3 separate regions of the Homo sapiens genome follow, and all the other regions are linked to region 2. Evidence: fine-mapped expression QTL. A gene starts in region 2. Each other region holds a variant in brackets. All regions are shown on one strand. Distances are from middle to middle. Region 1 overlaps G3BP1 (G3BP stress granule assembly factor 1). Region 2 holds the start of SPARC (secreted protein acidic and cysteine rich). Region 3 overlaps GLRA1 (glycine receptor alpha 1).

Evidence for each region.
Region 1: its variant is fine-mapped to the expression of SPARC in whole blood (INTERVAL, PIP above 0.99).
Region 3: its variant is fine-mapped to the expression of SPARC in whole blood (INTERVAL, PIP above 0.99).

Annotation. Positions count from the first base shown.
Region 1 is chr5:151,800,067-151,808,292 of GRCh38, forward strand. It overlaps G3BP1 (G3BP stress granule assembly factor 1), which reads left to right. Exons shown (of 12, transcript NM_005754.3): 10 at 152-280; 11 at 694-803; 12 at 3,819-8,226. The coding sequence ends at 4,025. Among named protein-coding and RNA genes, the nearest start is that of G3BP1, 32 kb to the left of the region's middle. The variant A/AT (reference allele first, on the strand shown) is at 4,319.
Region 2 is chr5:151,682,052-151,690,331 of GRCh38, forward strand. It overlaps SPARC (secreted protein acidic and cysteine rich), which reads right to left and starts at 4,864. Exons shown (of 10, transcript NM_003118.4): 1 at 4,814-4,864. CLMAT3 (colorectal liver metastasis associated transcript 3) reads left to right here. Exons shown (of 5, transcript NR_109873.1): 4 at 3,778-3,900; 5 at 4,331-5,859. RefSeq lists enhancers at 2,317-3,146, 3,975-4,804, 4,805-5,632.
Region 3 is chr5:151,833,996-151,841,995 of GRCh38, forward strand. The region is part of intron 7 of GLRA1 (glycine receptor alpha 1); the gene reads right to left. Among named protein-coding and RNA genes, the nearest start is that of G3BP1, 66 kb to the left of the region's middle. The variant C/G (reference allele first, on the strand shown) is at 4,533.

The DNA of each region.
Region 1 (8,226 bases), 120 kb after region 2:
AGTTGATATTTATATACTTTAAAATAAAAATATTGTAGGGTTGATGGAATTACCTGTTTTTAGTGTAGAGGGAAAACTATTGAATGTGAGCAGTCATTGAAAGATGTCTTCTTTCTCTTGTCTTTCATTGATGTTTTTGTCTCCTTTTAAGTCCGTGAGGCTGGTGAGCAAGGTGACATTGAACCCCGAAGAATGGTGAGACACCCTGACAGTCACCAACTCTTCATTGGCAACCTGCCTCATGAAGTGGACAAATCAGAGCTTAAAGATTTCTTTCAAAGTAGGTTATTGAGTTTTGAACACTAAATTCATCTAGTGTCTCTCTAGCACTGTCCAGTAGCAATAGAAAATGAGCCACATATGTAATTATAAATTTTCTAGTAGTCATGGTTAAAAAAAAAAAGGTAAAAAGAAACTGGATAATTTTAATAACATTTAACTTAAGGCATTGTCATTTCAACATGTAAGAATATTGTGAGAGATATTTTACACTTTTTCATAATCTTTGAAATCCAAATGTGCCTCCCATAATTTTACACTTATGAGAGGCACATCTCAATTCAGACTAGCTATATTTATAATTCAAGTGCTCAGTAGTCACATGCATCTAGTGGCTACTGTATTGGACTGTGTACATGTAATGTTTAAAGATAATGGTCTAAGTAGTTATCTGAGAATGTGTTTCACTTGCAGGTTATGGAAACGTGGTGGAGTTGCGCATTAACAGTGGTGGGAAATTACCCAATTTTGGTTTTGTTGTGTTTGATGATTCTGAGCCTGTTCAGAAAGTCCTTAGCAACAGGGTAAGCAGCTTTTTGTCTTGATTTTTTTTTTTTTTTTTTAAAAAGGGTTTTGGTTCTTTAGAATATATCTTTACAGCTGGGTCTTTATGTAAAGTGCAGTTTATTCCAACATGTTCAGGTAATTTATTCATTATTTTCAACCATTATTAAAAGACTTGCCTGGGGGTTTAGGAAAACAAACCTTATGTTTAAGTAACTTAGTTTTTGAAAACATGAATTATGAGAATGAGAAAATGAATAGTTATCAGTGCACTGAGATTTACGTAACTACCTTTCCTTGGTGGTGGCTTTTGGTATACAGGAGATGAAATACAAACCTACTTCTAACTATTAACTAAGATAAGAGCCAGTTTGCCCAGGACAGTTTTGGTATACTGCTGTTTTTAGAGAATAACTATTAAGAGCTTCTTCTTTAAGTTAATAAATTGGATTTGGAAGATAAATTATATAGTCAACCTACTTGGAACCATCCTTACTAACAGTACTCTTACTCTGTACGTTCTAATAATAGAAGAATTTGTAGAATGGAAATCTTACTGTGGGATCCCCAAAGAAAGCTTCCCTTCCTCTAGCAAAAAACTACTTTTTGTAGTAGTAGAGAAGAACAAGTGTATAAATAATATTAATTTACTAAGCTATACTTTTTTATTGAGGTGAAATTTACATAACAAAATTAACCATTTAAAAATGTACAACTTAATTGCATTTAGAACACATTATTGTGCAACCATTACCTTTAATTCCAAAAGTTTTTTACTAAAAGCCATAAGCTCTTTACTCACTAAGCAGTCATTCCTTGTACCTGTCTCCCAACCCCTGGCAGCCACTAATCTGCTTTCTGTCCCTATGAATTAAAATTGTGTACTTTAAACCATATAATAAAAATACTGCAGATCAGTGATATTCTCCAGAATGTTAATGGGCATACTGCAAAGTTTTTTATTTTTTTATTTTTTTTTTTTTGAGACAGTGTCTCTCTCTGCCACCCAGGCTGGAGTGCAATGGTGTGATCTTGGCTCACTGCAACCTCCACATCCTGGGTTCAAGCAGTTCTCCTGCCTCAACTTCCTGAGTAGCTGGGATTACAGGCACCCGCCACCATGCCCAGCTGATTTTTTTGTATTTTTAGTAGACATGGGGCTTCCCCATGTTAACCAGGCTGATCTCGAACTCCTGACCTCAGGTGATCCGCTGACCTTGGCCTCCCAAAGTGCTGGGATTATAGGTGCGAGCCAATGCACCTGGCCTTACTGCATAGTTTAATGTTGTGGTTATAACATGTCAACCTGAGTATGCAAATATACATTATCTTTCAAATTATTTGACCATTTATTTTTGTGAAGCATCTCCTGCAAAATACTGTTTGAGAAATGAGAGAACAGTGGTTTATCTCACCAAAGCCACTGAAGAACCCAGAAATGTCCAGTAGGCTTTGTAGATAAATCCATCATTCAGCATGTATTAGGCCTAGTGGCCACCCTTCATTTCATGGTATTGATAGAAGTCTACTATGCTCCCTTCACTAATTTTTTGTGTGAGCAGAAATAGCTTATGTAAGACTGATTGCCGTGGTGTATGACATACTGTAGTGTAGCTTACCGTTTCAAAGCTTATTTTTCCCTGGAGGCCTTGGTTTGTATTCTCCTTTCATCACTCATTAGTGTTGTGACCCATGGGACAAGTTACTTAACCTCCCCGGCCCTTAGTTTGCTAGTCCTTAAAGTAGGTATCTACCATCAGAGGGTTGTTGTAAAGGTTAAGTGAGCTAATAAATTTGAATAGAGCTGGGCACAGTGGCTCACGCCTGTAATCCCAGCACTTTGGGAGGCCGAGGCGGGCGGATCACGAGGTCAGGAGATTGAGACCATCCTGGCTAACACGGTGAAACCCCGTCTCTACTAAAAATACAAAAAATTAGCTGGGTGTGGTGGCGGACGCCTGTAGTCCCAGCTACTCGGGAGACTGAGGCAGGAGAATGGCGTGAATCTGGGAGGCGGAGCTTGCAGTGAGCCGAGATCGCGCCACTGCACTCCAGCCTGGGCAGCAGAGCGAGACTCCATCTCAAAAAATAAATAAATAAATAAATTTGAATAGAACACTTCCGCGACACATAGTAAGTACTCTTAGATACTCATTTTAAGAAATTAGAAAATTACATTGCTGGTGAAGAGCATAAATTGAATATATTGAAATGTTTCGTAGCCCCTTAACTACTTTGGCTCTGTTAGGAGGAAACGAAGGCCAAGACTATCCAAAATTCTCAGGAGGTGTTAAAGAGCAAATTAAAGTTTATGTCAAATTAATGAAGTTTTTATTTTAAATGTATATGTACTTTGCATAAATATGTACAGTACCATCTTTTCACACTGGTGATGATGAGGTTTTATTCTAAGCCTCCAAATCTATGGAGAAGGTGGCAATTTTTTTTATTTTTTATTTTTTATTGGGACGGAGTCTCACTCTGTCGCCCATGCTGGAGTGCAGTGGCACGACCTTGGCTCACCACAACTTCCGCCACCCGGGTTCAAGTTGCACTCCAGTCTGGGTGACGAGTGAAACTCTGTCTCATTAAAAAAACAAACAAAAAACTGAACTGTGAGAACTTAGCTGATTTATAATCTGCTGGTTCTTTTTTTTTTCTGAGTCGGAGTCTCGCTCTTTTTCCCAGACTGGAGTACAATGGCGTGATCTTGGCTCACTGCAACCTCCGCCTCCTGGGTTCAAGCAATTCTCCTGCCTCAGCCTCCTTGAATAGCTGGAACTACAGGCGTGTGTCACCATGTCTGGCTAATTTTTGTGTTTTTTTAGTAGAGACGGGGTTTCACCATGTTGGTCAGGCTGGTCTTGAACTCCTGACCTCGTAATCCACCCGTCTCGGCCTCCCAAAGTGCTGGGATTACAGGCATGAGTCACCGTGCCCAGCCTCTGCTGGTTCATTATTACAGCTTTCTTTATCTTTGATAGTGATAGCCAGCTCATCAGTACTCTTAAGTCTGGTCACCTTGATTCTTACAGCCCATCATGTTCAGAGGTGAGGTCCGTCTGAATGTCGAAGAGAAGAAGACTCGAGCTGCCAGGGAAGGCGACCGACGAGATAATCGCCTTCGGGGACCTGGAGGCCCTCGAGGTGGGCTGGGTGGTGGAATGAGAGGCCCTCCCCGTGGAGGCATGGTGCAGAAACCAGGATTTGGAGTGGGAAGGGGGCTTGCGCCACGGCAGTGAATCTTCATGGATCTTCATGCAGCCATACAAACCCTGGTTCCAACAGAATGGTGAATTTTCGACAGCCTTTGGTATCTTGGAGTATGACCCCAGTCTGTTATAAACTGCTTAAGTTTGTATAATTTTACTTTTTTTGTGTGTTAATGGTGTGTGCTCCCTCTCCCTCTCTTCCCTTTCCTGACCTTTAGTCTTTCACTTCCAATTTTGTGGAATGATATTTTAGGAATAACGGACTTTTAAAGAAGCAAAAAAAAAGACTGAATTTCCTTGCTTACTTTGCATATACAGACTGG[A/AT]TTTTTTTTTTTTTTTTACAGCCATTTCCCCAAAGGAATGTCTTGCATATTACTGACATTTGGTATGTTTCATTCATTGGAATATTTCTTATTTTCTACGTGTTTGAAAAGCCTGTAAGAAATACAGGATTTGATAATATTTTGAAGGCAGGAAAAACCCAAATTGTTTCTTCTTTGAGAGTCATGACTACCTTCTGGTGTGGAGAAATTGCCATTGGAAAATTTGACAATTTTGATTCTCACTGGTATGTTTAAAAACTGAATAAAAGGAATAGAATTTTTTTTTGATAAAGGATCACAAAACAATTCTAAAACCTAACTGTTTTTACCATTGAAATTTAAATTGTGATAATAGGTTTTAAATGTCTAGAATGCAACTGATAGGCTTTTCTTGAACTGTTAGTTTTTTTGAAGTAGTTTTTTCATGTTTAATTTGTATTTGTAAAAAAACAAAAAGCAAAAAAATTCCCAAAACCCAGATAACAACCAGAGCAAAACTGTTGTGCCTTCTATTTATCTTTGATTTCAGTCTTGGCAATTGTTTAAAAAAAAAATCTAGATTTGTTTTATTAGGTTCAGAGTATGTGGGGAATTATAGAATCCCTCTTTCATCACTTTGTGTATGTCTTTTGTTAACATATTTGTTATGCCTTATTCTAAAATTGAGTCTCAAACTGGAATGCCTTTGAAGACAGATGCTTCTATAGAGGTTCTTTGACCTAAATAGTTCAGCATTTGTATTTTTATTCTGGTATCTAATCAGATTCCTAATCATAGCCCGTAAGAAGGAATGTTACTTTAATATTGGACTTTGCTCATGTGCTCGTGTCCGCATTTTTTTTTTTCTTAAAATCATAGCCATATGGTAAATTTTCTATTTTGTTATGGTTCTCTTTTATTGATGGGCATGCAGTGGGTGTTACTTGGAAATGGCCAATTTTTATTAAAATATTTCTGGAAGAAAATTTAATCTGGCAATATAGACTAATACTCGTTTCACATATGTGTTATTTGTTGAGTGCTGTGTGTGAGATGGGTGAAGGTTTTGTTTACACGTGTGAAACAAACTTTTGTGTGATTGTCATTACTAATTGAAGGGCAACCAGGTTGTAAAATTCAGCGTATTTATTTTCTTAACAGTATTCATCTTTAGGACTGTCGTTTGAGGATAGCATAGGAATATTTGGTTTGCATTACTGAGAAACTCTAGGTTTGCTGTGATGGTTAAGACCACAGTGAAGTTGGTATTACCAGTTTGGTTCCAGTTCCTCAAATATTTGAAAATTGGCAGCATCTCCTTTACATAAACTTAATGTAACTGAATCACATGGCTTTTTTGTAGGGTTAAAGTAACTTTGGTAACCACTTTTGGCCCAGATCACTGATAATAGGAAGAAATACAACTTATACTTTTGTAGCTTATATTAAGCATGTGGTGGGTGGAAAGAAAAGTTTAGTCTGAGTCACTTTGGAAAAAAAAATTACTTTGTGGTAACTTCAAGGTCATAAATTATGGATAGCCTAGAAATTATCCTTCATGAGTGAATACTAAATTATACATTTCAAAACAGAAGTTCTTCCTACTTGGAGACTTAAGGGCATTAACTAGATGCAGCAATCCTCAGCTTGGTGTTATCACATACTAGAGGACATTTGGAAATGTGTGAAATTTGGAAGGGTTGTTGGAGAGACATGCATCTGGCATTTATTGGGTGGGGTCTAAGGATACCAAATGTTGTGTAAAAATGAAGCAACCCCATTGAGAACACTGATAGTCCCTATTCCTGTGGGTGGGTGGAGCTGTGGGATTAGGAAAACTGGAATGAAGACTCATTCTTTTGAAACTCAGCCTCAGATAAATAACAAACTAGGAAATGGAAATCTGTTTCAAGAATTGCAGTAACATCTACTCTAAGGAATTAGTAATTTCACTTTTTATTATTTGTACCAAATGTATGTGTGTGTTGTGTATGTTGGTGTAAATGTGGAGAGGTGGTAGCAATACATACTGATGCTGCTTGTAATTTGTTGCAGGGAATTACTGCACAATCTCAGAAAATAGAAAGCTTCCCCAGTGCTTTCTGTCATCAGAGTTGGGATGATTGTGAGGTTTTGAATGATAGTATTGGACCTAAGAAATAGGATTAGCATCATGATCAGAACTGTTGAGAATCCTTGTACAATTATGTACATTATTGCATGTAGAGTAAACCTGAGAGCTTAGAGATGTATACGTTTCCACTGCTGGAAAATCATTATAAGTTAGGGCAACATTTTCTATAGGTGGCAGCAGTAGGAGCTCATCACATTGAACATTTTCAGATTTTAAAATGAAAATTTTCATCCGTAGGAATGGCCCAATGTATAGTTATTAGCTACTGAGCTTAGAACTCTTGACCCATGAGATTTTTTTTTTAAATTTTTATTTTTATAGAGGCAAGGTCTTGCTATGTTGTCAGGCTGGTCTCAAGCTCCTGGCCTCATCAGTTCTCCTGCCTTCCAAGTAGCCGGAACTACAGGTGTGCACCATTGCACCTGGCCTCATGAGTATTTTAGTTAGATAAGATTTGTTTGGTTCAGTGGGTCTTAGTTTTTTAAGACCTGTTAATTTGTAATTAGACATCTTGGGCCTTAAACTGTATTTTTGTTTTAGTGGTGAGGTTGGGTTTTACTTTGTGTATTCCAGCGTTCTCAACTTTGTCAGATATTGCTAGGGACCAGTGAGATAGATAATCCAAAAATAATAATTTGACTTTGGTTGAGTATGTCATTACCACAGTGTTAGTTGAATTGCACTTTAGGTTAGAAAAGTTAATTTTCACATCTGTGCTGCGGGTTAGGTGATATTGTCCTCAGCACAATAGATGAGGAAGAAACTGAATCAGAACAGTTAAATGACAGGCTTCCAAGTCATCCATGTAGCAAGGAGCACATTTGCCTCCCAAACTGATGCTTTTTCTCTAGAACCATAATGCCCCCCTAATTACATTTCAGTAGCATAGACCGCAATGAACTTCCTACTGTAGGGAGACTTGAGTCTGGAATACATTCAGAACAAGGTTAACATTACAGTTCTTAATTTCCTTTAGGGCAAACAAGATAATTAAACTTGGGTTTTGTGAGTCTTTTTTTGATTTGCAGATTATATATGGTAACACAATAATGGTGGTTTGTTTTTAAGTTTTTTCTCATCAGGTTTGATAATTTAATGCAAACTTCAAATCTGGATGTGAATAATAATATTTTTATTATAGTATAATCCAGGTGAGTTTATAGAATTTGTGTTTTGTGCTTATAAACTGTCACCTTCTGATACTTTTCTTCATCCCTCTATTTGAAAAACCCTTGTAGAATTTAACGATTTAATGGAAAATGTTGCACTTTATAGAAGGCCATTTTAGAACTTACAGGTAACCTTTTTGAAGAGCTTAGATTTGTAGACCACTGTTTATGCTGAGTGACATTTCTTTTAAATGGTTGCATTTGTCAAATCTATAAAGATGTTTTTTATATTGCAGTTTTCTTTTTGTGCTACTTAAAGGAATCTTTGCAATGCTGCATATAGATAATTGTTGACCTTTTTAGTTCAGCAGTTTTTAAACTTGAAGTAACATCAGCATTTATTTGAATATCAGGTTTTAGCTAACTGCCTAATGTACCAAAAAAAAATTAGCAATGTCTTATGTGGGATGAGGGGTTAAGTTAAAGTTGCTGATCAAGTAATGGCCGTGTGGCACAAGATGATAACTAAGAATTTCTGGTTCTAAGGTAGTAATGCCTTTTGGGATTTATATTTGTTTAATGTTGAGATTCTGGGGACCATAGGTGGGCCTGTCAACTCTTAACAGACTATAGTAAAGGAGAGATGGTGGCACATGTGAGATAAAACTTGTTTATATTTACATTCT
Region 2 (8,280 bases):
TTTCAGCTCTGATTTTCCGGATCAACTTGGGCAGAAGCTTTTTAGAGCCTTACCTCTCTCCACTTGCCCCTTGACTCCCTGCTTCCACTTCTATTTCCTGCTGGAAGGAAAGACGCTAAAGGAAACTTTTAAGGTGTGGTAGCTAAAACTTAGGACTGGAGAGCTTCTGGGGCAACTCAGAGGTGGCTCCAGAGTTTGGGGCTGGAATCAGCCCGAGATTCCATAAAGACATCTGAGATGCCACATTTCACTGTGGCTAGCAGAGGCTGGGGTGGAGCTTCAGGCTTCATCCTTGGCTCCCTCTAGGGCACCGCTGCTGCATTGTGGTGACCACAAATGAAAGGATGAGAAATAACATCAAAGTGTCCAGGCTATTGCATCTGGAAAAGCCTCCGAGATCCCAAAGATAGCAAATATGTGGCATATGTGACAAACACGTGGCCTCCACCTACCCCTCCTGCACATGTGGCAGACATTACTAATCAATCGCTTGACCTCTTCTCCTAAAGCTTAGAGAGTCATCAGAATCCTGAACACAGTTCTTCTGACAGCCACTACCGATGAATTAGTGATGTTGTCAGGCCACATGAAACCTCTGTGTGCTGCCTCTTATTGTAGAGGTAGAGAAATTGAGGCTTAGAGAAGGAAAATACCTCACTGGAGGTCACACGGCAAGCTGGTGTCTAAGCCAAATTTCCAGATGTTCAAAAACATCCAGATGTTTGCTTTGCTTTTTTTATCTGATAGGTCTGAAATCCTAATGCCATGACTAACATCAAGATGACCCAGAGTGATCCCCAGATGAGAGAAGTTAATACCAAGTTTCTGAAAGAAACCAGCTCTGACAACAATTGTTGTCTATGTTCATGTTTTCCTTGCAGACATAAAGTTCTATAGCTTGATGGGTGAGAGCAGAGATGATTTCCTGTCTAAGCTGCCAGTTGAGGAGAGGCTGTTTCTCTAAATAATTCCGTCAAGTCACTACTTGCTGGCCCTGGCCCTGCACAGCCCAGCTGTCCCTGGGTTCAGGATTGAGGTTGGGAGGGAGGGAGGGAGGGAGGGAGGCATCAGGGTCTGTGCTGTAGAAACAAGGTCCTCAGGGTTGCTGAAAGCTCAAGGCTGGTTTTCCCTTCTCTCCTTTGAAACTGACGTTTGGGAGGGAGCCAGCTAGAAGCAAGGGAGCAGCCGCCTACAGGCACATCATGCAGGGCCTTTGGGCCTAATGACAAAGCCACGTGGGCTGGAATAGGCATTGCAGGCCAGCCAACGGGAGAGACAAAGTGCTGCTCACCACTTAGTATCCATGGGGCTTGTGTGCATAAGTGTGTTTCCAAACTGAACAAATGGGGATTGGGGGGGAAGGCAAGGTGAATATCAAAATGGCTCCAAACACGTGGAAGTTTGGCTCAGACGCCAGCTTGCTATGTGACCTCCAGTGAGTTATTTTCTCTTCCTGAGCCTCAGTTTCTCTCTCTCTGAGACATAGAGGTGGTTGGTGATAAATGTAGGTTACACGTCTGTCTCATTGTCATGATCCATATTATGTTTGACTGTGCATATGTTTGACTGTGCACATCCATCCATGTGTGGCTGCAAGTGGCGGTGTGTGTTTGTATACCTGATGGCATGTCTGTGTAAGTTACATACAGCCTGACTTAGCATCTGTCTGTTTCAGCCTGTAATAGGCGAGGGTCAGAATTTTCACATTCATTGAGATATATTCCTGGAACTTGTCTGTAAATCATTGTCATCCAGGAAGAGGTGTGTGAGTGAATGACTTTCTGTGTCTGCTCCTGTAATGAGGCACTTATTTTTAGCTGAGCCAGTGGGTGCCTGTTGATGAAATCGATGTTTATACTCTTCATCCCTATGGGTTTGTACCTGTCCCTGTTTATCTCTGCATATTTATCTACCTACATAAACAACTTCAAAAGCCAAATATTCTACTGTTTACCTCACATCCTCAGCTCTTTCCTTTCCTTCACCATTCTTTCTTATTTATAGCTTGTTTTCAGCAAGGAAAGCTGCTCTCATGAATAGCAAACCCCAGCCACACTGTTGATTGACAAATCTCTACAGATGGATAAGGATTACAGCATGATGGTTATGCAACTCAAGATCCCCTAGCCCATCTTTTCTTGTTTTCTTTTCAACTGGGGGTGCAGTAAGGCGGTGTTAAAAATGCAGGCAAGCTATTCCTTTGAATAAAAGCGGTATCTGGGATTTAGGTTTATAGGACTTCAGAGTTAGAAGGGTGCCTGGGAAATCATCTAGCTTAGAAACTCTATTTAACAGTTTGGGAAACTGCAGCCTCAAGAGAGGAAGTGTCTTTCCCAATGTCAGGCACTGGGAGTTAGAACACACTTTTTTTTTTTTTTTTCACCCTTGGCCAATGCTTTTCCTACATAGAGGGCACAACAGTCTTGGGAAATACACAAGAAGTTCCCCAAATCAAAATGAAGATAAACAATATTATGATTTTAAAATTTTTCCTGTCAGTACTTCTAGTAAAGGAAAGTTCTATACAAACCCCAAGATGATGGAGCTGCCAGGAAAAAAAAAAAAAAAAAAAGCTGAGAATGATTTCACTAGGTCTTTGGATGCCTTTAATCCATCAGTTCTAAAACCCTTTGCATTATGAGGGAATGCCACAATTCGCAAAGTGCTTCCCTGTGCATTATCCCATTTCTTCTACACACTATCTACCCCCTAGAGGTGGCTGCTGTTACTGTTCTTTAACTGTAGAGGGAATGGGGCCCAGAAAGAAGTATTAGTTCAAGGTCAAATGGTACCTTCAGGGCACAGCCAGAGCTAAAACCCAGGTCTTCAAACACCCTTGCAAGGAGATTATCATGGCCCAAGGCTTCCCCGGAATCCTGAGAGATCACAAGGGCAGGGCCTAGAATTTGCTGCAGGCCTTGAATTTGGGGGTGGGGTACGTTCAGACTGATGTTCTTAGAGGGTTTCAAGGGTCCCCTCCAGCCAGCAGGCAGAGACCCTGAAAAAAAGGTTACCGTGGCAACTCGCATTCCTCGGAGAGTGAGTCAGGCAGAGAAGAGCCTTCTGGTGGGTGGGACTTGGAGAAAGTTTCAAAAGTTGATTCCTTCTCCAGGCAACCCCCTTCTTCTCCTCCCTCCCCCTCTTTGCTCTAGGCTATGTCGATGTGGCAGCTGATAGCTGAGAGTTAACTCTCTCTTTCCTCAACCACTCCCTTTTCAGAAGGCTTCATCCTCCAGCAAATACACACATTTGTTACCAGTCCTCACTCCATCCCCACGTCATGCCCTCTAATCCATTTGAGAATATCTTAAAGCTGAAAGCTGTGACCACCCATATTCATCCTCTCTCTCTCTCTCTCTCCCTCTCTCTCTCACACACACACACACACACACACACACACACACACAGTGCATACAATTTTTAGGGGCTTAGAGATGGCTTGAGGCCCATTCAAAGACCACTCCATAGACCCTGGTTAAGAAATCTTCCTTTGAATATTTTAGAGGACACAAAGCACCCCAAAGAGCCTTCAGTTTCAGCCTTCTTTCATTACAGATGGGGCACTAAATCCAGGGGAGACACTTACCTAAGATCACACATAAAATGCATGCCCGAAGCCTGTGTCCTACTTCTGCTTTGCTTCTCACTAAACCACCAGCACTTGGGGCGTATAGAAATTTAACTCTAAAGCATTACTAGAGAAAACATTTTCTCTAATGAAAAAAATGCTGTCCTTTCCTGAGGAAAATGCATGCCTCTCTGTTCCCTTTTGGGCAGACTGGGAATCCTGGAAGACATAACTCATCCCAGTGCCCCCCTTCCCTTGGAGTCCTTGGAGTCCCTTTCCCTAAGGAAGTCCACTTGACAGCCAGTTCACGGAGCCAGTGGCGGCGAAGAAAGGTAGTGGATTTGTCTGAAGAAGAACTGACACCCTGACAGGCTGGACACTAGTCTTGGGTGGATTACGGAAGGGGACCCTGGAATTCTCTCCCTCTTCCCTTCCCCCTTTCCCCCTTCTGAGAATATCTCCCCCAGCACACTCCACCTCCCATTACACCCATGTCTTGGTTGACGATATCTGATGTCTGGGTTTTCAGATCTAGATAAACTAAGGGCTACTGCCTGTGTTTACCATCCCAAGGAACTCAGGACAGGAACAACACCTAACCCAAGACTGAGGTTGTGATGGTGCCATTTCAGGCAGAATGGTGCTGAAATTTGTGTATTGGGGGGACGGAAGGTGGTGTTTGGGAGTGAGGAGAATTAGAGGAAAACAGAAGGCTTCCCAGAGGTGTGGATTAATGGTGAAGCCTCCCCCTTTGCCTTTCAGAGATCAACTGATTGTTCGTGCAAAGTCCCTTTTGGAAAACAGAACCCCTGACCGAGATCTGGAGGACAGACTCCGGTTGCTGGCCAGGTCCCTGTGGCAGCTGTGATGGGATCAGATTCCCAGGAAAGGAGGAGGCTGCCACATTTGCAAAGGGAGCAAAGAGGACAGGCAGGCAGCCTCTGAAACCAGAGACAGACACAGAGAAAAACAGAGAGTGAGAAAATGCTCCCCCGAAGACATAGTGAGATTATTTTCTGTAAACCTGTAAGGGAAGACAAAGTTACACAGTGAGTCCACCTTCTGAAAAGCAACAGGCAGACAGGACCGAGGGCCATGCTCTTAAGGGGAGCCGTGATGGAGCCGGGAGGAGAGGCGCATCCTCAGCAGAGCTTCCCTCCCTTGCACACGAGCTGACGGCGTGAACGGGGGTGTCGGGGTTGGTGCAACTATAGAAGGGAAAGGCTGGGCGGGGGTCACACATACCTCAGTGGCAGGCAGGCAGGCGGCAGGCAGAGCGCGCTCTCCGGGCAGTCTGAAGGACCGCGGGAATGTGGAGGGGTTTAGAGACAGGCAACAGGAAACCACTCAGAGCTCTGGGCTGGGTCTATCTCCCCTCCACCCCGTGGTCCCTCCTCCTCCTGTCTCCTCCTTCCCCCGGCCTCCTCCTTCTCCCATAGCCAAAGCTGTCTCTGTCTTTCATTTCTTTCCTCCTCTTTTTGCGGTGGGCTGTCCTGACCAAACGTCCCAACCCTGCCTGCCTCATCTGTTCCGGGGCTGCTGCCTAAACCGACTCACAGAGTGCCAGGGCTGGACAGGCCTGGAGGGATGACCCAGAACAGCCTCTTTCTTGTTCAGAGGGCAAGTGAGGCCTGGAGACTGCAAGGAATTACCCAATGGCCCCCAGGGGCAGAACCAGGCCCAAGTGTCTTGATCTTCTAACCAGTGAGCTTTACAGGAGTCCTCCCTAATATTAGGCAATGCTGAGAAGGGCCAAGCAATTCAAGGGGGTTGTATTTGCCACAAAGGCAAGGCCAGGACTTACCACTGTACAGACAAGACAAGCTGCTACTAGTGGTATCATCCTTGATGATTTGGAACTGGTCTTAAAAAAAAAAATCCCACTCAAACTCCACTTGTACCACTAATAGACACATAAGGGATTAGACATCTAGCTGGTGGACCTGTGCCACCAGTATTGAACAGATAAGGTAATTGATGATATTGATGATAATCATAGGAGTAACAATAGCCAAAGTTTACTGAGGATTTAATAATCTTCACAGCAACCCCTTATCTTAGGCATTGTAATTATGACCATTTTAATAATAAGGAAACATAGATGCTAAGTAACTTGCCTATGATCACCTGGCAAAAAGTGGTATGAGAGGGCTGATTCTACGTTTCAACTTGGGTCACTCCTGTTATATATGAACTGCTCAGTGCAACAGGTCTTGGTTGAATGTTTATTTTGTGCCTAACACTCTGGGAGGTATGAGAATTAATAAATACCTGGTCCTTGTCCTCAAAAAGTTTTGTGGTTTCCGGTTTTTTTGTTTGTTTGTTTTGTTTTGTTTTGAGACAGAGTCTCACTCACTCTGTCGCCCAGGCTGGAGTGCAGTGGTATGATTTCGGCTCACTGCAACCTCTGCCTCCCGGGTTCAAGCAATTATCGCGCCTCAGCCTCCAGAGTAGCTGGGATTACAGGCGCACATGCCACAACACCCAGCTAATTTATTGTATTTTTAGTAGAAATGGGGTTTCAACATGTTGCCCAGGCTGGTCTCGAACTCCTGAGCTTGGGCAATCCGAATGCCTTGGCTTCCCAAAGTGCTAGGATTACAGGCGTGAGCCACCGCACCCAGCTTAGCTTTGTGGTTTCTTAAATTCTTTTTTAATTTTTTTAGACGAGTTAAGTGCAGAACTGAGAAGGGAAAAAAAGTACAAGGAATTCAATCTGTGACTGTGAACAATCAATCGAGATAACTCACTATTCAAGGAGCTTTGGATCTTGCTGAAAGGTTGTGCCTTACACATACACCCACTTACATGAGTGGTACAGACTCTAAGGCTTATCCCAGGGCTTCAGATTGGTGGATTCCTGAAAGAGGTGGACCTGGAAGCATGGGTTGGGTTTGAATACCATGGAAAGGAAGAAGGCAGAGAACACCCTCATGATACACTTCCATCCGCTGTGGCCCCTGTCTCTCTTGCCATTCTCTCCTCCTACCACTGTCCTCTGTGCCCACGCTGCTCCAGCCATGCCAACTTCCTTCCAGTCCTTCAACTACCCCAAAGCTTCTCCCACCCCAGGATTTTTTTTTTTTTTTTGAGACAGACTCTCACTTTGTTGCCCAGGCTGGAGGGCTGTGGCGCAATCTCAACTCACTGCAACCTCCACCTCCTGGGTTCAAGTGATTCTGCTGCCTCAGCCTCTCAAGAAGCTGGGATTACAGGCATGCACCACCACACCAGGCTAATTTTTGTATTTTTAGTAGAGACAGGGTTTCACCATGTTGGCCAGACTGGTCTCGAACTCCTGACCACAAGTGATCCGCCCGCCTTGGCCTCTCTAAGTGTTGGGATTACAAGTCTGAGCCACCATGCCCAGTATCTTTGCATTTGCTCTTACCTCTGCCAGAGACACTCTTCCACCTGATTTTCCTGTGCCTATTCTAATGTCACCTCCTTAGGGCCACTCAATCTACTTGCCTCTCTCACAGGCACAGTTCATCGCCTTACACTGTTTTATTTCCTCCCCATCACCTGTCATTCTCAGAAACCATTTGTTTCCCCAACTAGACAGAAGCTTGGTGAGAGCAGGGACTTCACATGTCTGTTTACTGCTTTGTTCCCAGCATGTTGACCAGTGCCCCACACAAAGCTGGCTTGCAATATTTTATTCAATAAATATATGAACTTCCGACTTGCCCATCTGAAAAAAGAGAGGGTTGTCTTTTACTAGGGTTCCAGCCTGGAACACTGCCCCACACCCAAGAGACCCTCAAACCACTAAAGTGGAATATAAAAGTTAGGGTGTTTGGTCCTTTTGAGAACCTAAAGGAAGCAATGAACTTTCTCTGCAGAAAAATCCACAAACACCCAAGAAGGAGTCTTCTCCAAATGACCCCCAAGGGCCGGGTGCAGTAGTATGTTCCTGGAGTCCCAGCTACTCTGAGGCTGAAGCAGGAGGATTGCTTAAGGCCAGAAGCCTGAGACTAGCCTCGGTGACAGAGCAAGATGCTGTCTGTAATAATAATAAAATAATAATAATAATAATAAGGCCAGGCATGGTGGCTCACTCCTGTAATTCCAGCCCTTTGGGAGGCTGAGGCAGGTAGATCACCTGCGGTCAGGAGTTCGACACCAGGCTGGCCAACATGGCAAAACCCTGTCTCTACTAGAAATACAAAAGAAATTAGTTGGGCATCATGGCACGTGCCTGTAATCCCAGCTACATGGGAGGCTGAGGCAGGAGAATCGCTTGAACCCAAGAGGCGGAGGTTGCAGTGAGCCGAGATGGCACCATTGCACTCTAGCCTTGGAGACAGAGCAAGACTCCGTCTCTAAATAAATAAATAAAGACCCCCCAAGGCCTCTCACCCTGGTTCAAAAGCCAAGTGCTTTTGGCTGCTGAATACAGGGTGCTGGTGGACTCTCCACATATCTGTTTTGCCATCCGGACAGATGTATATTTTTATAGGATTGGTTGCTATAGCTCCCAGGCATTATGGGACTAAAATTAGCAGAAGCTTTGTATTTTTATTCATAAACTAAAATGATGATTCTGATGAGGATGAACCAGTGGAACTCTTCCCAGTTTTTGGCTGGTGTTCCCATGTGGCTTTCAGTTCAGGAAGTGGAAGTCTGGTTGGGGCTGGGCTGAAGCTCTGGAAGAGAGATCCCTCCTGAGGGCCACTTCCAGGTCTCTGTGGGGACACCCTGAGCCAGAA
Region 3 (8,000 bases), 150 kb after region 2:
AAAGAGACTTAGACTCTCACACAATAATAGTGGGAGACTTTAACACCCCACTGAAAATAATATTAGATCAACGAGACAAAAAATTAACGAGGATATTCAGGATGTGAACTCAGCTCTGGACCAAGCGGACCTAATAGAAATTACAGAACTCTCCACCCAAAATCAACAAAATATACCTTCTTCTCAGCAACACATCACACTTATTCTAAAATTGACCACATAATTGGAAGTAAAACATTCCTCAGCAAATGCAAAAGAATGGAAATCATAACAAACAGTCTCTCAGACCACAGCACAATCAAATTGAAACTCAGGATTAAGAAACTCACTCAAAACCACAAAACTCCACGGAAACTAAACAACCTGCTCCTGAATAACTACTGGGTAAATAACGAAATTAAGGCAGAAATGAATAATTTCTTTGAAACCAATGATAACAAAGACACAACATACCAGAATCTCTGGGACACATCTAAAGCAGTGTTTAGAGGAAAATTTATAGCACTAAATGCCCACAGGAGAAAGCAGGAAAGATCTAAAATTGACACCCTAACATCAGAATTAAAAGAACTAGAAAAGCAAGAGCAAACAAATTCAAAAGCTAGCAGAAGACAAGAAATAACTAAAATCAGAGCAGAACTGAAGGAGATAGAAACATGAAAAACCCTTCAAAAAATCAGTGAATCCAGGGCTGGTTTGTTGAAGATTAATAAAATATATAGACTGCTAGCCAGCCTAATAAAGAAAAGAGGCTGGGCGTGGTGGCTCATGCCTGTAATCCCAGCACTTTGGGAGGCCAAGGTGGGTGGATCATGAGGTCAAGAGATCAAGACCATCCTGGCTAACACGATGAAACCCCGTCTCTACTAAAAAATACAAAAAATTAGCCGGGCGTGGTGGCAGGCGCCTGTAGTCCCAGCTACTTGGGAGGCTGAGGCAGGAGAATAGCGTGAACCCGAGAAGTGGAGCTTGCAGTGAGCCAAGATTGCGCCACTGCACTCCAGCCTGGGCGACAGAGCGAGACAACATCTCAAAAAAAAAAAAAAAAAAAAAAAGAGAAGAATGAAATAGACACGATAAAAATGATAAAGGGGATATCACCACTGATCCCACAGAAATACAAACTACCATCAGAGAATATTGTAAACACCTCTATGCAAATAAACTAGAAAATCTAGGAGAAATGGATAAATTCCTGGACACATACACCCTCCCAAGACTAACCCAGGAAGAAGTTGAATCCCGGAAAAGGTCAATAACAAGTCTGAAATTGACACAGTAATTAATAACCTACCAACCAAAAAAAGCCCAGGACCAGAAGGATTCACAGCCAAATTCTACAAGAGGTACAAAGAGGAGCTGGTACCATTCATTCTGAAACTATTCCAAACAATAGAAAAAGAGGGACTCCTCCCTAACTCATTTTATGAGGCCAGCATCATCCTGATACCAAAACTCATTTTATGAGGCCAACATCATCCTGATACCAAAACCTGGCAGAGACACAACAAAAAAAGAGAATTTCAGACCAATATCCTTGATGAACATCGATTAGAAAATCCTCAATAAATTACTGGCAAACTGAATCCAGCAGCACATCAAAAAGCTTATCCATGACCATCAATTCAGCTTCATCCCTGGGATGCAAGGCTGGTTCAATATATGCAAATCAATAGACATAATCCATCATAAAGACAGAACCAATGCCAAAAACCCATGATTATCTCAATAGATGCAGAAAAGGCCTTTGATAAAATTCCACACCCCTTCATGCTAAAAACTCTCAATAAACTGGGTATTGATGGAATGTATCTCAAAATAATAAGAGCTATTTATGACAAACCTGCAGCCAGTATCATATAGAATGAGCAAAAGCTGGAAGCATTCCCTTTGAAAGCCAGCACAAGACAAGGATTCCCTCTCTCACCACTCCTATTCAACATAGTATTGGAAGTGCTGGCCAGGGCAGTCAGGCAAGAGAAAGAAATAAAAGGTATTTAAATAGGAAGAGAGGAAGTCAAATTATATCTGTTTGCAGATGACATGATTGTATATTTAGAAAACCCCATTGTCTCAGCCCAAAATCTCTTTAAGTTGATAAGCAACTTTAGCAAAGTCTCAGGATACAAAATCAATGTGCAAAAATCACAAGTATTCCTATACACCAATAATAGACAGAGACCCAAATAATGAGTGAACTCCCATTCACAACTGCTGCAAAGAGAATAGAATACCTAGGAATACAGCTTACAAGGGATGTGAAGGACCTCTTCAAGGAGAACTACAAACCACTGCTCAAGGAAATAAGAGAGGACACAAACAAATGGAAGAACATTCCATGCTCATGGATAGGAAGAATTAATATTGTGAAAATGGCCATACTTCCCAAAGTAATTTATAGATTCATTGCTATCACCATCAAGCTACCATTGACTTTCTTCACAGAATTAGAAAAAACTACTTCAAATTTCATATGTAACCAAAAAAGAGCCCACATAACCAAGACAATCCTAAGCCAAGAGAACAAAGCTGGAGGCATCACACTACCCAACTTCAAGCTATACTACAAGGCTGCAGTAACCAAAACAGCATGATGCTGGTACCAAAACTGATATATAGACCAACGGAACAGAACAGAGGCCTCAGAAATAACGCCACATAACTATAACCATCTGATCTTGACAAAAACAAGCAATGGGGAAAGGATTCCCTATTCAATAAATGGTGTTGGGAAAACTGTCTAGCCTTAAGCAGAAAACTGAAACTGCACCCCTTCCTTACACCTTATACAAAAATTAAGATGGATTGAGGACTTAAATGTAAGACCTAAAACCATAAAATCCCTAGAAGAAAACCTAGGCAATACCATTCAGGACATAGGCCCAAACAAAGCCTTCATGACTAAAACACCAAAAGCAATGGCAACAAAAGCCAAAATTGACAAATGGGATCTAATTAAACTAAAGAGCTTCTGCACAGCAAACAACAACAACAACAACAAAAAACCAAAAAACTATCATCAGAGTGAACAGGCAACCTACGGAATGGGAGAAAATTTTTGCAATCTATCCATCTGACAAAGGGCTAATATTCAGAATCTATAAAGAACTTAAACAAATTTATAAGAAAAACAACCCCATCAAAAAGTGGGCAAAGGATATGAACAGACACTTCTCAAAAGAAGACATTTATGCAGTCAACAAACATATGAAAACAAGCTCATCACCACTGGTCATTAGAGCAATGCAAATAAAAACCACAATGAGATACCATGTCATGCCAGTTAGAATGGCCATCATTAAAAAGTTAGGAAATAACAGATGCTGGAGAGGATGTGGAGAAATAGGAATGCTTTTACACTGTTGGTGAGAATGTAAATTAGTTCAACCATTGTGGAAGACAGTGTGGCAATTCCTGAAGGATCTAGAACTAGAAATATAATTTGACCCAGCAATCCCAATACTGGGTATATACCCAAAGGATTATAAATCATTCTACTATAAAGACACATGCACACGTATGTTTATTGCAGCACTGTTCACAATAGCAAAGCCTTGGAACCAACCCAAATGGCCACCAATGATAGACTGATAAAGAAAATGTGTCACATATACACTATGGAATACTATGCAGCCATAAAAAGGATGAGTTCATGTCCTTTGTGGGGACATGGATGAAGCTGGAAACCATTATTCTCGGCAAACTAACACAAGAACAGAAAACCAAATACTGCATGTTCTCACTCATAAATGGGAGTTCAACAATGAGAATACATGGACACAGGGCAGGGAACATCACACACCAGGGCCTATTGGGTGGTAGGGGGCTAGGGGAGGGATAGCATTAGGAGAAATACCTAACGTAGATGATGGGTTGATGGGTGCAGCAAACCACCATGACGTGTGTATACCTATGTAACAAACCTGCATGTTCTGCACATGTATCCCAGAACTTAAATAAAATGTCCATTTTTAACAAAAATTCTAAGACATGCAAAGAAAGAGGAAAGTATGGCTCATACATAGGGAGAAAAGTAGTCAAAAGAAGCTGTCCCTGAGGAAGCCCAGATGCTGGACTTAATAGACAAAGACTTTAAATCAGTTATTTTAAGTATGTTCAACAAACTAGAGGAAACTATGTCTAAACAACTAAAGGAAAATATGAGAGCAGTGTCTCACCAAATATAGCATATTAATAAAGAGAAATGATAGCCTGTAATCCCAGCACTTTGGGAGGCTGAGGCAGGTAGATCACCTCAGGTCAGGAGTTTGAGACCAGCCTGGCCAACATGGTGAAACCTCGTCTCTACTAAAAATAGAAAAAATTAGCCAGGTGTGGTGGTGCATGCCTGTAATCCCAGCTACTCGGGAGGCTAAGATTGGAGAATTGCTTGAACACAGGAGGCAGAGATTGTAGTGAGCCGAGATCGTATCACCGCACTCTAGCCTGGGCAACAGAGTGAGAGTCCTTCTCAAAAAAAGAAATGATAAAGAAGAACCAAATAGAAATTCTGGAGTTGAAAAGTAAAATAA[C/G]TGAAATGAAAACTTCACTAGATGGAATCAACAGTAGATTTAAGAAGACAGAAGAATCAGGAAACTTAAAGAAGAATCAGTGAATTTTAGATTATATGGTCTGAGGAACAGAATGAAGAAAAATAAACAGCCCCAGAAACCTGTGGGAAACCATGTAATGCACCAACATAATGTTTAATAGGAATTTGCAGTGGAGACAGAAAGAATATTTAAAAAAATAGTGCCTGAAAACTTATCAAATTTGATTAAAAATAGTAATCTATACATCTAAGAAGCACAGGGAAATCCAAGTAAGATAAAGAGATCCACACCTAGACACATCCTAATCAAAATGTCAGAAGACAAAGTCAGAATCTTTTTTTTTCAGATGGAGTCTCGCTCTGTTGCCCAGGCTAGAGTGCAGTGGCTAGATCTCTGCTACTGCAACCTCCACCTCCCAGGTTCAAGAAATTCTCCTGCAAAGGCAGAATCTTAAAACAGCAAAAGAGAAGCAACTCCTTTTGTACAAGGGATTCTTGATAAGATTAACAGTTGTATTCTCATTAACACCATCGGGTACAGAAGATAGTGGGATAACATTTTCAAAGTGCTGAAAGGAAAAGACTGCCAATTTTTCTCAAGAATTCTGTATCCCTTAAAAATGAAAAATACATTTTTAGGTAAACAAAAGCTGAGAGACTTCCGCTAGCAGATCTGTCCTACAAGAAATACTAAAGGACGCCCTTTAGGCTGAAATAAAAGGATGCTAGACAGTAACTCAAATTCATACGAAGAAATAAGGAGTATTAGTAAAGGTAACTGCATAGGTAAATATTCAAGACAATATAAAAAATGCAGTTTTTGTTTATAACTTTTTTCTCCTATCTGATTTAAAGGACAGTTGAGTAAATCAATGATTGTAAACCTGTGTTAATCAACATATAATGAAGATGTAATTTGTATGATAATAGTGCAAAGGAAGGGGGAGGTAATTGAGATATATATAGGAGCAAAGTTTTTTGCGTACTGTTTGTTATGAACTGAATATTTGTGTGCCCCTAGCATTTGTATGTTGAAGTCCTTACCCCCATTATGACTGTATTTGGAGACAGGGCCTATGAGGAAGTGATTAGGTTAGACTTAGGGTTAGGGTTAGGGTTAGATCTTAGAGGTGAGATCTTTAGGGTGAGATCTTACAGGTGGGGCCTTAATTCAATAGGATTTAGGGAAGAAGAGATACCAGAACTCTTTCTCTACCATGTTAGGACAAAGCAAGAAAGTGGTCATCTGCAAACCTGAAAAAGAACCTTCACCAGCAACTGAATTAGCTGCCACCTTGATTTTGGACTTCCCAGGTTTCAGAACTATGAAAAATAAATTTTTATTGTTTAAACCACCAAATCTGTGGCATTTCTTTTAGCAGTCCAAGTAAACTAAGACACTGTTGTAATTAAGTTAGTATTAATAATCTGAATTAGATGTTTCTAAAATAAGATGAAATTGTAATCCTCAGGGCAATCATGAAAAAAATAACTGGAAAAAAATAGTAAAAGAAATGACCAGGGAATTAAGATGACACGCTAGAAAATACTGTTTTTTTTTTTTTTGATAGTGTCTTGCTTTGTCACCCAGGCTGGAGTGCAGTGTTGCCAGCATGGCTCACTGCAGCCTCAATCTCCAAGGTTCAAGCAGTCCTCCCACCTCAGCCTCCCAAGTAGCTAGGACTACAGCTGTATGCCATTCCATCCAGCTAATTTTTTAAAAGTATTTTTTGTAAAGATGGGATTTCACCATGTTGCTCAGGCTGGTCTTGGACTACTGAGCTCAAGCAACCTACCTGCCTCAGCCTCCCAAAGTGCTGGAATTACAGGCATGAGCAACTGCACTCACAAAAATACATATTTAATGCAAAAAGGCAGTAACGGAGGAACAAAGACACAAAAAAGATAAGATATATATAGAAAACAACACAATGGCAGATGTAAATTATACGAAATCGCATTTTTTATTACATTAATTAAATTAAGTGGAAATAGACTAAACAAACTAATTGAAAGTTAGAGATTGTCAGACTGGATTAAAAAATAAAATGCAACTACATACTGTCTATAAAAGATACACTTTAGATTCAAAGACACAACTAGGATAAAAGTAGAAGAATGGAAAAAACATACCATGTAAACAGTAACCAAAAGAGGCCTTTAGGTGATTATACCAACATCAGAAAAAAAAAAAACCCACAAACAAACCAGTCTTTAAGAAAAAAAAATTGTTAATAAGAGATGAAGAGCATTTGATAATAAATGAGTCAATCCATCAAGAAATATAACAATTATAAACATCTATGCATCTAACAACAGAGCCCCAAAATATATGAAGCAAAACTGCCTGAATTGAAGCAATAAATAGATAATTCAACAATAATACTTGGTGTCTTCAAAACCCTGCTTTTTATAATGAATAGAATAATTAGAAGATTGCCAAGGAAATGAAAAACTTAATTGACACTGTAAACCAACTAGACCTAAAGAACACCTATAGAACACTCCACACAGTAACAGAAGAATGTACATTCTTCTGAAGTGCACCATGGAGTATTTTCAGAATAAACCATACTATTATGCATAAAACAAGTCTCAAACTTAAAATAGTTGAAATCATACAAAATATGTTTTCTGATTTCAATGGAATATTAAAAATCAATAACCAAAAGAAAGTTGGAAAACTCACAACAATAAATTAAACAATGCATCAAAGAATAAATAAAAGATATATTAAGGAATACTCTGAGGAGAATTGAAAACACAACATACTACAACTAATGAGATGCAGCTAAAATCATTTTTAGAGGGAAGTGTATAACTGTAAACACCTATTTTAAAAAGAAGAAAGGTCCTAAATCAATAACTTTGCACTTTAAGAAACTAGGAGGGCAAACTAAAGTCAAAGCAAGCAGAAGGAAGAAAATAATAAAGATTGGAATGGTAATAAGTAGAACAGTAGAAAAATAATAGAGAAAATCAATGAAACCAAATGTTGATTCTTTGAAAAAATTAGCAAAATTGAATAACTTCTAACTATACTGTTCAAGAAAAAATGAGGGAAGAATCAGATTACTAAAAGAGTGAAAGAGGAGGCATTATCATTGACTTTACAGAAATAAAAAGGATTATAAGGGAATACTTTGAACAACTGTATGCCAATAAATTTGATAACCTAAATGAGGTGGACAAATTCCTAAAAAGACACTGACCCAGAAAGAAATAGAGGCCATTCATGGTGGCTCATGCCTGTAATCCCAGCACTTTGGGAGGCCAAGACGGGTGGATCATCTGAGGTCAGGAGTTTGAGACCAGTCTGGCCAACATGGAGAAACCCCATCTCTACTAAAAATACAAAAATTAGCTGAGCGTGGTGGCGTGTGCCTGTAATCCCAGCTACTTGGGAGGCTGAGGCAGGAGAATTGCTTGAACCCAGGAGTTGGAGGTT